2 separate regions of the Homo sapiens genome follow, and region 2 is linked to region 1. The links come from fine-mapping of genetic effects on gene expression. Tissue or cell type: whole blood. Region 1 holds a variant in brackets; the other region holds the start of a gene. All regions are shown on one strand. Distances are between the middles of the regions.

Region 1 (5,677 bases):
TGGGTTCACAAATCGCCACTTAGAAAGAGTTCCCTGATCAAAAATACCCATTTGGGGTTTTTAGAGTGAAACGTTAACTTCTACCATGTTTGTGCCATTGTCCATTTGGGGTTTTCTTTTTTTTATAGGAAATATCATTTTGTAAGCATTACGATACTCAAACATGTTTGTCTAGGTTGGCTGTGATAGTTACACTGGTCCAGATTATAAAAAGAGTCCAACTTTAACTTTATTTTCTTCTTTCATATCGAACAAAAAGGGAAAGAGGAAAACTTAATTAATGAAAGATATTTTCTATCACAAAAGCGGATATAACCTGGGAACACAGAGGCTAAGAATATGGGCTGTGAACCTACACTCCCCAAGTTCAAATCTCACTTTCAACAATTGATTTAACCTCTCTGTCCTTCAGTTTCCTCTCTGTGCCTTATTATCTCCCAGTGGAAATAATGGTAATGTCTGTATGATTGGGTTGTTGGGAAATATAAATGAGTTATTTCATATAAAGTGACTAGACCTGGAACTTAATATGAGTGAGAGCTCAATAATTTTCAACTCTAATTATTATTTAATCTTTTGTTTAAAATTTGAGAGTTGGGTCGGGCGCAGTGCTCACATCTGTAATCCCAGCACTTTGGGAGGCCGAGGCAGGTGGATCACCTGAGGTCAGGAGTTTGAGACCAGCCTGACCAACATAGTGAAACCCTATCTCTACTAAAAATATAAAAATTAGCTGGGCATGGTGGCACACACCTGTAATCCCAGCTACTTGGGAGGCTGGAGCAGAAGAATTTCTTGAACCCGGAGGCAGAGGTTGCAGTGAGCTGAGATCGCGCCATTGCACTCCAGCCTGGGCGACAGAGTGAGACTCTGTCTTGAAAATAAATAATAAAATAAAATAAAATTAAATTAAATAAAATTAAAATTAAATTTGACAGTTAATCCTCTCCCTTGCAAAATATAACATGATGATGATGACAATAATGATGATGACAATGATGATGACTCTAACCCTAGAACTGAGATTTTAACATTTTTTTACTGCTTCCCTTCACAACAAATAATTATCATATTTAAAGGAATTAAGTTCCCAGATAAAGTATAACCTAGGTTAGATTTTTCATTATCATGTTTAATGGTCTATGGTCAATTACATTTTTCTGATAAGTACCATAAATCTGGAGAATAAGAAGGGAGCCAGACATTTGGGCTTATAGGGCAAATAGCTAAAAAGCTGAAGCTATTTAGGAACAATTTATTGGATGTTAAAAATCTGCTTGATATATGTATAAATTTCAAATATTATCAACGACATGAAAACTTAAGGTGCCAGAAATGATAAAAATAACCACTTGCAAAGCTCAAGTGATGACACAAGCATATACAGAGATTTTTTTTTTTTTTTTAATGAGGACAGGCTGAAGAAAGGAAGAAAAAAAAATTAGGAGACAGATTCCCTTTTTTTTTTTTTTTGAGACGGAGTCTCGCTGTCACCCAGGCCGGAGTAAGTGGCGCAATCTTGGCTCACTGCAATCTCTGCCTCCCAGGTTCAAGCGATTCTCCTGCCTCAGTCTCCCGAGCTGGGACTTCAGGCATTTGCCACCGCGCCCAGCTAATTTTTGTATTTTTAGTGGAGATGGGGTTTCTCCATGTTGGCCGGGCTGGTCTCGAACTCCTGACCTCAGGTGATTCGTCCGCCTCAGCCTCCCAAAGTGCTGGAATTACAGGCATGAGCCACCATGCCAAGCTGGTAGATTCCCTCTTCTAAAAGAAGTACATGTTGCTTTGCAATCAAACAGAAAGGCTTTTCATGTGGATTTGCTGCTAAGTTCTACCTCAGTACAGAAGATGAAACTGGGTCTACAGTGCAGAAGGTGAGAAATTAGTTTTTGATGAATGGACACAACCTGCGAACCAAAGGTATCGAGATGGAACTCAACACAGCCTCAACAGTAATCAGTTGTTTTGTGTTTCCCTGAGATGAAAACATGAAACAGGATCTGCATTTGATAGCACTATGAAATTAATAAGGTAAGTTTCATGCATGGTCCATG[CA/C]AAAAAAAAAAAAAAAGAAATTAATAAGGGAAGGATAAGCAAGTTGTCAAGGAAATACTGGATTTTCTACTGCCTTATGCTGATAGAGTCAGAGAAAATCTTATAGAGTTTTTTGTTAAAACTCAATCTGCTAATTTAGTCAGACTGACATGTTCCTCAATGCCAAGTAGGAGTCCTTTTTCCCTTTCTTCCCCTTAGTTTACGTTAGTAACAGTTAGCAAGTAACAGCTTCTAGGTTAGCATTGTCAGGATCAGAAAGAAAAAAAAAAAGGAGAAAAGCTTGATTTACTGAAATGAGAATTCTCTCAAATAAGGACCTAAATGGTTTTTCCAGAAAACCTTCCTAGACACATATTCTCTAACAGGTCCATGGGCTTAGGGGGCCTATAAACTCCCCAAGAGAACAAATAAAATTTGGCAATTATGTGCAATGTTTTGAAGAGTCTAAACTTTCATTAAACTCTCTAAGTGAGCTATTACTCCCAAGCTCCCCCAGAAATACTAAAACTGACTGTACTGGAGATAAAAAATTCTTTTGTTTAGCATCAAAGATATGCAGTGCAGTAGTTCAGAGTTCTAAAAGGAAACTTTCTTTCTGAAGATATCTCAGACCTCACTCACAGACCTGTGAGTGAAATATCAGTTCTAAGTCAATAACCAACTTTATTTATAAGTCAGAGTTCTTTAAATTACTGTATTGATCTCTGCTACCTTAAATCCTTTATGAAAAAAGGGGAGACATTTTAAAAAGTGGTTGACCTCTGTGGTTCCCTCCCTCTTGACAATGACTTTACTTCCCCCACTAACTTTACTATGCCAAATTGAGTTTTATATTCGATATGAGGGGAAAAAAGGATATAAAACTGTACCTATTACACACACTTTCATAAAACACCAAGATTGGAAAGGAACAGACCAAAATATTAATGGGGTTTATTGTTGGGCTGGGGGACTATGATTAATTTTTATAATTATTTATATTAAATTATGTTTTTTGGGGTTTTATGCATGAGTACACATTTCTTTTATAATCAGAAAATAAAATACTTTAGCAATGGCAGAGTCACTGGAGAAAATAAGCTTACAGATTTCCAAATAGGATAGAAGGCTAACAAAAAACTCAAATTCTAAAATAAAGAACAATCCAATTAAAAAAAACTATGGCACATTTTTAAAGCATTTTGAAATTTCTGTCTTTGTGTAAACAAACTTACAGTTTCAATGACGATAGTAGCTGAAAAAGTCTTCTCATTGATGGATTCTAGGGTACCTTCATTTCCTCTGTAGCCTCCATTTAAAACTAGAATTCTTTTTCCTATGATGGAAAAGAATATAAAAATTAATGTGAAGAAATATCTCCACTTTTCTTCTAACTTGTTACAGCAAAATGTACTACACTGAATAAACATAATAAAAAACAAAACCCTTTTTCTTAGAAGTTCTCAATCATTTAAGAAGTGTGTAGTATTTTAGTGCGGTGTATGGATACTTTCACTACTCGAACATTATAAGACTTCTCATTTTTCCCCCAATTATTTGTTAAAGGAATATGTATGTTTTACTTTTAGACTGCAAAGAATATAAGGTACTTGGAGAAAATGTTCAGAGTCCAGAAGTAATCAGAGACAATTTAGCTTACTTTGTCTCTTTGCAAAATTCATAAGATGGTTTGGCAGTTTTACAAAAATTTAAACTTATACCTAACATGTGACTGAGCCATTCTATGTATTTACCCAAGAAAAAAGAAACCAGATATCCACACAAAGCTTTGTACGTATATGTTCACAGCAGTTTTATTTTTAACAGCCAAAAGCTGTAAATAAGCCAAATGTCTATCAACAGATAACTGGATAAACAAACTGGTACAGTAGTCCCCCCTTATCCCAGGTTTTGGTTACTCTCAGTCAGCGTGGTCCAAAAATAGGTGTGTAAAGTACAATAAAATATTTTGAGAGAAAGAGACCACATTCACATAACTTTTATCATACTATATTATTATAATTGCTCTATTTTATTATTAGTTATTATTCTCAATCTTTTACTGTGCCTAATTCATAAGTTAAACTTTATTATAGATATGTATGTAGGAAAAAACATAGTATATATAGTGTTTGGTACTATCCATGGTTTCAGGCATTCACTGGTGGTCTTGGAAGGTATAGGTTAAGGGGGAATACTGCATATCCATACAATGACATACAGCAAGAAAAAAGAATGAACTACAGATACGTTCCACCACATAGGTGAATCCAAAATAATTACACTGAGTGAAAGTAGCCAGACCAGAAAACAGGACACATTTATATTTATAGAAACTTAATTTATATAAAATTCTAGAAAAATATGAACTGAACTATGACAGAAAGCATGTCAGCAGATGTCGAGGAAGACAGAGGATGCAGGAGCAGAAGGTAGGAGGGAGGGATTAGAGAGGGAAATGAGAGGATCTATTCATCAGCTAGATTGTAGTGATGGTTTTATGGAAGTAGGCACATGTTGAAACTTACCAAATTGTATACTTTACATATGTGTGATTTATTGTACATCAATTTTACCACAATAAAGCTAACATAAATTTTTCTAATCTGTAAAAAGAATTTTTACTTTAGGGGGAAAAAGAATAAAGAATATGATAATAAGAAGTTCCAGAGACTGATGTTATCACTACATTGGCAATGACACCCCCAGGAAGATTTTGAGTCAGAGGTAAACAACCTGGTCAAAGTAGTGTTTGTACTCAGATACGGATAAGTTTCCAAAAGGCAAAGACACCTAAGGGGAAAAAAAGCAAAATAACACAGACTTTCACTTGACTATCGCAGAGAGCTAAACAAATACATCACAGATTGAACATTCCTAATCTGAAAATTTGAAAAGCTCCAAAATGTAAAATCTTTTGAGTGCTGACATCATGCCACAAGTGGGAAATTCCACACCTGACCTCCTGTGACAGGCCACTGTCAAGATGCAATCAAAATTATTTAAAATATTGTATAAAATTACCTTCAGGCTATGTGTGTAAGGTGTATATAAAACATAAATGAGGATGAGTATGGTGGCTCAGGCCTGTAATTCCAGCCCTTTGGGAGGCTGAAGTGGGTGGATCACTTGAGGTCAAGAGTCTGAGACCAGCCTGGCCAACACAGTGAAGCCCCGTCTTTACTAAAAATACAAAAATTAGCCAGATGTGGTGATGCATGCCTGTAATCCCAGCTACTTGGGAGGCTAAGGCAGGAGAATTGCTTGACCTGGGAGATGGAGGTTGCAGTAAGTCAAGATCGTGCCGCCACACTCCAGCCTGGGTGACAGAGTGAAACTGTGTCTCAAAAATAAATAAATAAATAAAAATAAAATAAAACATAAATCAATTTTGTGTTAAGACATGGGTTCCAACCCTAAGATATCCAATTATGTATATGCAAATTCCAAAATCCAAAATTGGAAACTCTTCTGGTCCAGGCATTTCAGATGAGAGATTCTCAACCTATAACCATAAGCCTAATATAACAAATGCTATCCATATATGTCTACGTTTTGCTTCAGGAAAAAAAAAAAAAAGTATTCCAGGAAAGGAAAATCCATTGATGCCACAAAACAGCTTCATCAGAGAGCCAGTAAACTA
Region 2 (5,000 bases), 29 kb after region 1:
AGATTTTATAATGGTGAATACGTATCATTATGCATTTGTCAAAACCCATAGGATGTACAACACCAAGAGTGAACCCTAATGTAAACTATGGATTCTGGATGATACTGATGTGTCAATGTAGTTTCATCCATGGTAACAAATATAACACCTCGTTGCAGGATGTTGATGATGAGGGAGACTGGAGAGGGGAGCGGAGGTCCTAATAACCAAACCTATAACAGTCTATTGCTTTTGATCGAATCTTGATTTCAAGGAGCAGTTGGAGGACAACTGAGGAAGTGTGAATGTGTATTAGATGATAAAGAGGAACTTCTATTAATTGTGTTATGTTGATGACATATACTATGGTTATATAGAAAAGTATCCTGAAATTTTAGAGATGCCTATTTAAGTATTTAAAGGTGAAATATCCTGATATTGGTATTTACCTTAAAATATTTTTTAAAAAGTAAATACGGCAAAATTACTTAAAGTGTTAAGTCTGGGTGTTACAGACTGCATGTCTGCGTCCCCTCAAAGTTCATATATTGAACCCTAACCCCCAAGGGAATGGAATTAAAAGGTGGGCCTTTGGAGATGACTGGATTTAGATGAGGTCACAAGGGTAGAGCCTGCATGATGAACAGGGTGGGACCGTATCTCAAAAAAAAAAAGAGGAAGAGAAGTTTCTATTAGAGCTTGCTCTATCTGCTTTGTGAGGATAGAGGCAGTTTCGCAAACCAAGAAGAGGACCCTCACTAGAATCTGACCATGCCAGCACCTTGATCTTGAACTTCCCAGCCTCCAGAACTGTGAGAAATAAATTTCTGTCATTTAAACCACCCAGTCTACTGCACTTTATATGGCAGTCCAAGCAGACTAAGACATTAGATAATGCATATACAGGTATTCCTTAATAGAACTAAAGAGAGTAACTGTATCAATATTAGTATGAGTCCTACCTAAAATACCTCTTCCTTCACTTGCAGAAACACTGGATTAGATTATTCCAATTGCCTCAGTGTTCTTCCACCCTTACCCAATCCAGTCCAATCTCCGGAGAAAAATATGATCACATCACTAGCCTGCACAGCATTCAATCAACCACCTCTTTAATGGGGAAAAGTGTAAATTCCATAGTGTAGCCATATAAGGCTTTTCGAGATCTGCCCAGACTCCTTGAGCCACTCTATATATACTTCACTCATTTAAAACTCAGCGACAATCCTACAAGTAGGTGAAATTATTATTCCCTCTTTACAGATAAGTAAAGGGGAATATAAGTAAATAACTTGCCCAAGACCACACGGTTGGTAAGTGGCCCTGCTTGACTTTAAATTTTGACAGTCTGATATATCCATAAACCAGATAAATCCATAATTTTAACCACAATATTATTCTGTGCCCGGTACAGTGTAGGTGCTCAATAAATGCTTGCTAGATGAGTAGTGTGGAAGAGCTTAGCTCTCCTTTTTCACCTGATCCCAAAAGAGGAGTGAATCCTAACCACCCTGTTTCTCTTAAGAGTCAAGTCAAGTAAGAGCTGATGACTGTTACTGGCATTGCCCGGGCGTCTAGTATTGCAGTATCCCCGCCCCTGTGAGGGGTGCAAAACCTTTTCTGATTTCATTTCTTTGGTGGTGGGGATCGGACTGGGGAGGAATGAGGGGTCGCAGAACACAGGCTGCCCGCTGGGCCCGGGGGCTGCGGGGAGGGACGGCTCTCGTGCGCTGAGTAGTTGACTCGCCCACTGCAGACCTCAGAAGCCTCACGACCCGGACCCCGGGAGCCCCAGCCCCGCGCCCTCAGCCCCGCGTCCAGGACCTGATCCTGGATTGCCAGGGGCCCTCCTGGGAAGACGGGGCCACTCCGGGCCCACTCACCTCGTCCCGGCACTGCTTCTGGCACATCTGGCAATACCAGCGTAGCTTCTGCAGCCCCTTGGACTTGATCCTGTTGGCGATAGCCTTGGGAGTAAGAAAATCCGACTTCCCCATGGCGACCACGGCAGCGATCACTTTCTGGACCCCAGTACTCAGCCAGCCGGAAACGGAACCGGGCTGGCGGCGGTGGGCGGGACAAATCCCAGCTGAGAGGCGGAAGGAGGTGGGGCCTGGGAAGACTGGGTTGCAACGGTCGCGAGACTCCCCTCGCCGTAGCGCGAAGAAACGAGACTGAAGAAGAGAGCAAGGTGGGAGGGGCGCGCTGGGGAGCTTCGGCGCATGCGCGCTGAGGCCTGCCTGACCGACCTTCAGCAGGGCTGTGGCTACCATGTTCTCTCGCGCGGGTGTCGCTGGGCTGTCGGCCTGGACCTTGCAGCCGCAATGGTATGGCAGCTTGCGGGAAGATCGGCAGGACCGCAAGGGATGGAAGAGCTTGGGCACGGGGCAGGGAGGAGGAGATGGGCGCGGGGGCAGATGTGGGGTCGCAGGGCCTAGCTGGGCCCCTGGCCCGTCGGAGGCGCCGGGTAGCGGGGGCTGCAGGAAGCGGCTCTGAGGTCGGGCAAGGTGTGCGCAGGGCCGGGCTCCGGCGGAGCAAGGTCCCGCCCGGTTCCCTGAGGTCGGAGGGCCACCTGGGACCTCGGGACTGCGGCCTGAGTCCAAATTGACGTCTGGGCGGTCTTGAGTTCCCTCAGCTAATCAGCACTTCCTGAGCTTCCACTTCCACTGCAAGCCAGGCCCCCAGTCTCAGGGCCTGCAAGGTGACGGGAGCCTGAGCAATAGCCCAGGGGAAGGTTAAGTCGTGCTTTTTGTCCTTGACGCCCTTTGAAACCCTGTAGTGCTGGACAGAGTGACCCTTTAAGATTCGATCGAGTCAGAGAGCGCGGCCGTCGAGCACCTCCCGTGTTGCAGACGCTTTGCTGGGTGCTGCAACAGCAAAGGCGAACATCCTAGATGCCTCTGAGGGTGGTTTTGGTGCAGAAGGGACCGTACAGATCTGTCTGAGGGCGGGGAAGGGAAGGACACCTAGCACTACCTTGAAACCACTTGCTGAAACCGTAACCCTGCAAGGTCATGAAATTGCCCCCAGGTCCTGGGGGAGGAGTTCGGTGGGCTTTTAAGTGGCATTTGTTAACTGACATGCAACTAAAGGGTGCCACGAGCCTCGAGAATTTTAAACATTAGTTCCGGGTAGGGGGACCTGGGCTGGGGGAAGTGCATATTAGAAGGCCCGGGAATGGGCAGGTAAAAGTTGGTTTGTGGGTGGTGCTGTTCAGTTTTGAAGCTTGACGGAATCTGGAAGAATTCCAGACACGCTGCTAAGGGGATTCTAGGCTGTGTCGTAGCAATTCCCTGCTCTTAACAGTGTGGAGGATTTCTAAGGCGCTACAGTGCTAAACTAGATTTTCGTATCCTAATTTATATGAAGGGACCATAAAGCATTAGTTGAAATAAATAGGTTTTTCATTAAGCAAATAACTGATAGTAATATACGAGATTTTCAGAATGATATCTGATGTGAATTAGCCACATAAAATTTTTGGTGGCTTGGCCTTGGAAGTCAGATTTTTTTTTCTCTAATATGGAAAAAGAACATTCATGGGAATTAAAAGGTCACTGTAGTTGAATTCTCAGTTGTATAGATTGTCCCACTTGTTAACCACTCAGCAGACATTAGCTGAGTGCTTCCACTCCACCCGGTGGTACTTGGAAAGTGCCCAAATGTGATGGTGAGCAAATAGATAAGGTCTCAGTCAGTTTCCTGGGACAGTGCCTGGCATGCAGTGGTGCTCTGCGAACATCAGCTCTCCTGGCCTTACCTTCTTGCCACGCATTAATGTTATCTGTCAGTATTTTTACAACCTTAGTTTCTAAGTTGATCTTTAAAAAAGTGGAAATAGTTTCTGAAACAAAGACAATATTTTACAAAAAATTTTAGAAATATCTTTTTTTAAAGCACCTGTAAGATAATTTGAAGCTCTTTTAGTGAAGGATTGTTTTAAATAAGAGCTCTCAGTTCAAGACAACTACTGTTAGGAGCTTAAATCGGAACCACAATCAGCATATAAAGGTCCTAATCCTGACCTTAATCCCTTTGGAATATTGGTTTTATAAATCATCAATCAACAGTGTTCCACTATGAAAGCATATTCTGTCTTCTTCTTTTCATGTATTCCTTCACTGCTGGTGCTTAATGTCTTTCCTTCCTCTTCTGCCATTTCTCTTTCCATGAATTATAATTGCCTTTTGAATTCAGAAATTAAAACCACTCCACAGAATTAATTTGGAAGGGGAAGAAAAGACCTTTGTCTTAACGAACCATGAAGAGGCATATTTCCATGCTTCTGTCTTGATTACTGGAAGTTTTTTAAAGTACAATTTGTTATTTTAGTTTTTGTTTTCAGAGAGGCTACCATGCTAACATAAAAACATTAGGCTTACTTAAATTCACAGTGGTTATTTTAATAGTTGTTAGGGTATCGGCAAAATACTCTAACGTTTTGAAAATTAAACCTTTTTTTTAAAGCAGCATATAAGAAAATGGAAATTAAAAATTTGAGAGAAAGAATCCCGGATTTTACTGTCTTCAAATTTGGGAAAAACATTTCTATTTCTTAGAGTTCAGTAGTCTCTAAAATGGAACTGTTTTTTAATAACGTGTCAGTAGTCATAAACTACAGATACCGATAAGGAGATGGCATTTCAGGAGAGAAAAGACAAATTGTCATCTGAGACCATGAGGGCAGATATTTACTAATAAATGTAAAAAATGTGAGGCAGCAGAGTGTAGTACTGTATGAAGAGAGAGACTCTGTAGCCAGCCCTGAAGGGCTGCATTCAGACGGCAGGGATTGAATTCTGATTGCCACTTAGCAGCTCTGTGACCTTGGGCAGGTTACTCAGTGTCTGTCCCACCAGTTCCTCATCTGTCAAATATATGCAATAAAAGTGCACAATTCAGTGGGTTAGTGTGAGGATTAGAGTATTTGCAAAGCATGTAGGACAATGGGGGAAATGCTGATAGGGATCCAAATGCTGTATATCAGTAGAGAAATGAAGAGTTTTTAAGTACAGTTTCTA

Evidence for each region. PIP is the estimated chance that this variant, and not a neighbour inherited with it, causes the effect.
Region 2: it holds the start of KIN, and the variant in region 1 is fine-mapped to the expression of KIN in whole blood (INTERVAL, PIP above 0.99).

What each region holds. Positions count from the first base shown.
Region 1 is chr10:7,756,621-7,762,297 of GRCh38, forward strand. KIN (Kin17 DNA and RNA binding protein) reads right to left here. Exons shown (of 13, transcript NM_012311.4): 12 at 3,270-3,370. Among named protein-coding and RNA genes, the nearest start is that of KIN, 29 kb to the right of the region's middle. The variant CA/C (reference allele first, on the strand shown) is at 2,055.
Region 2 is chr10:7,785,958-7,790,957 of GRCh38, forward strand. KIN (Kin17 DNA and RNA binding protein) reads right to left here and starts at 2,036. Exons shown (of 13, transcript NM_012311.4): 1 at 1,863-2,036. The coding sequence starts at 1,976. ATP5F1C (ATP synthase F1 subunit gamma) reads left to right here and starts at 2,220. Exons shown (of 10, transcript NM_001001973.3): 1 at 2,220-2,306. The coding sequence starts at 2,251. RefSeq lists enhancers at 1,989-2,308, 2,761-3,304.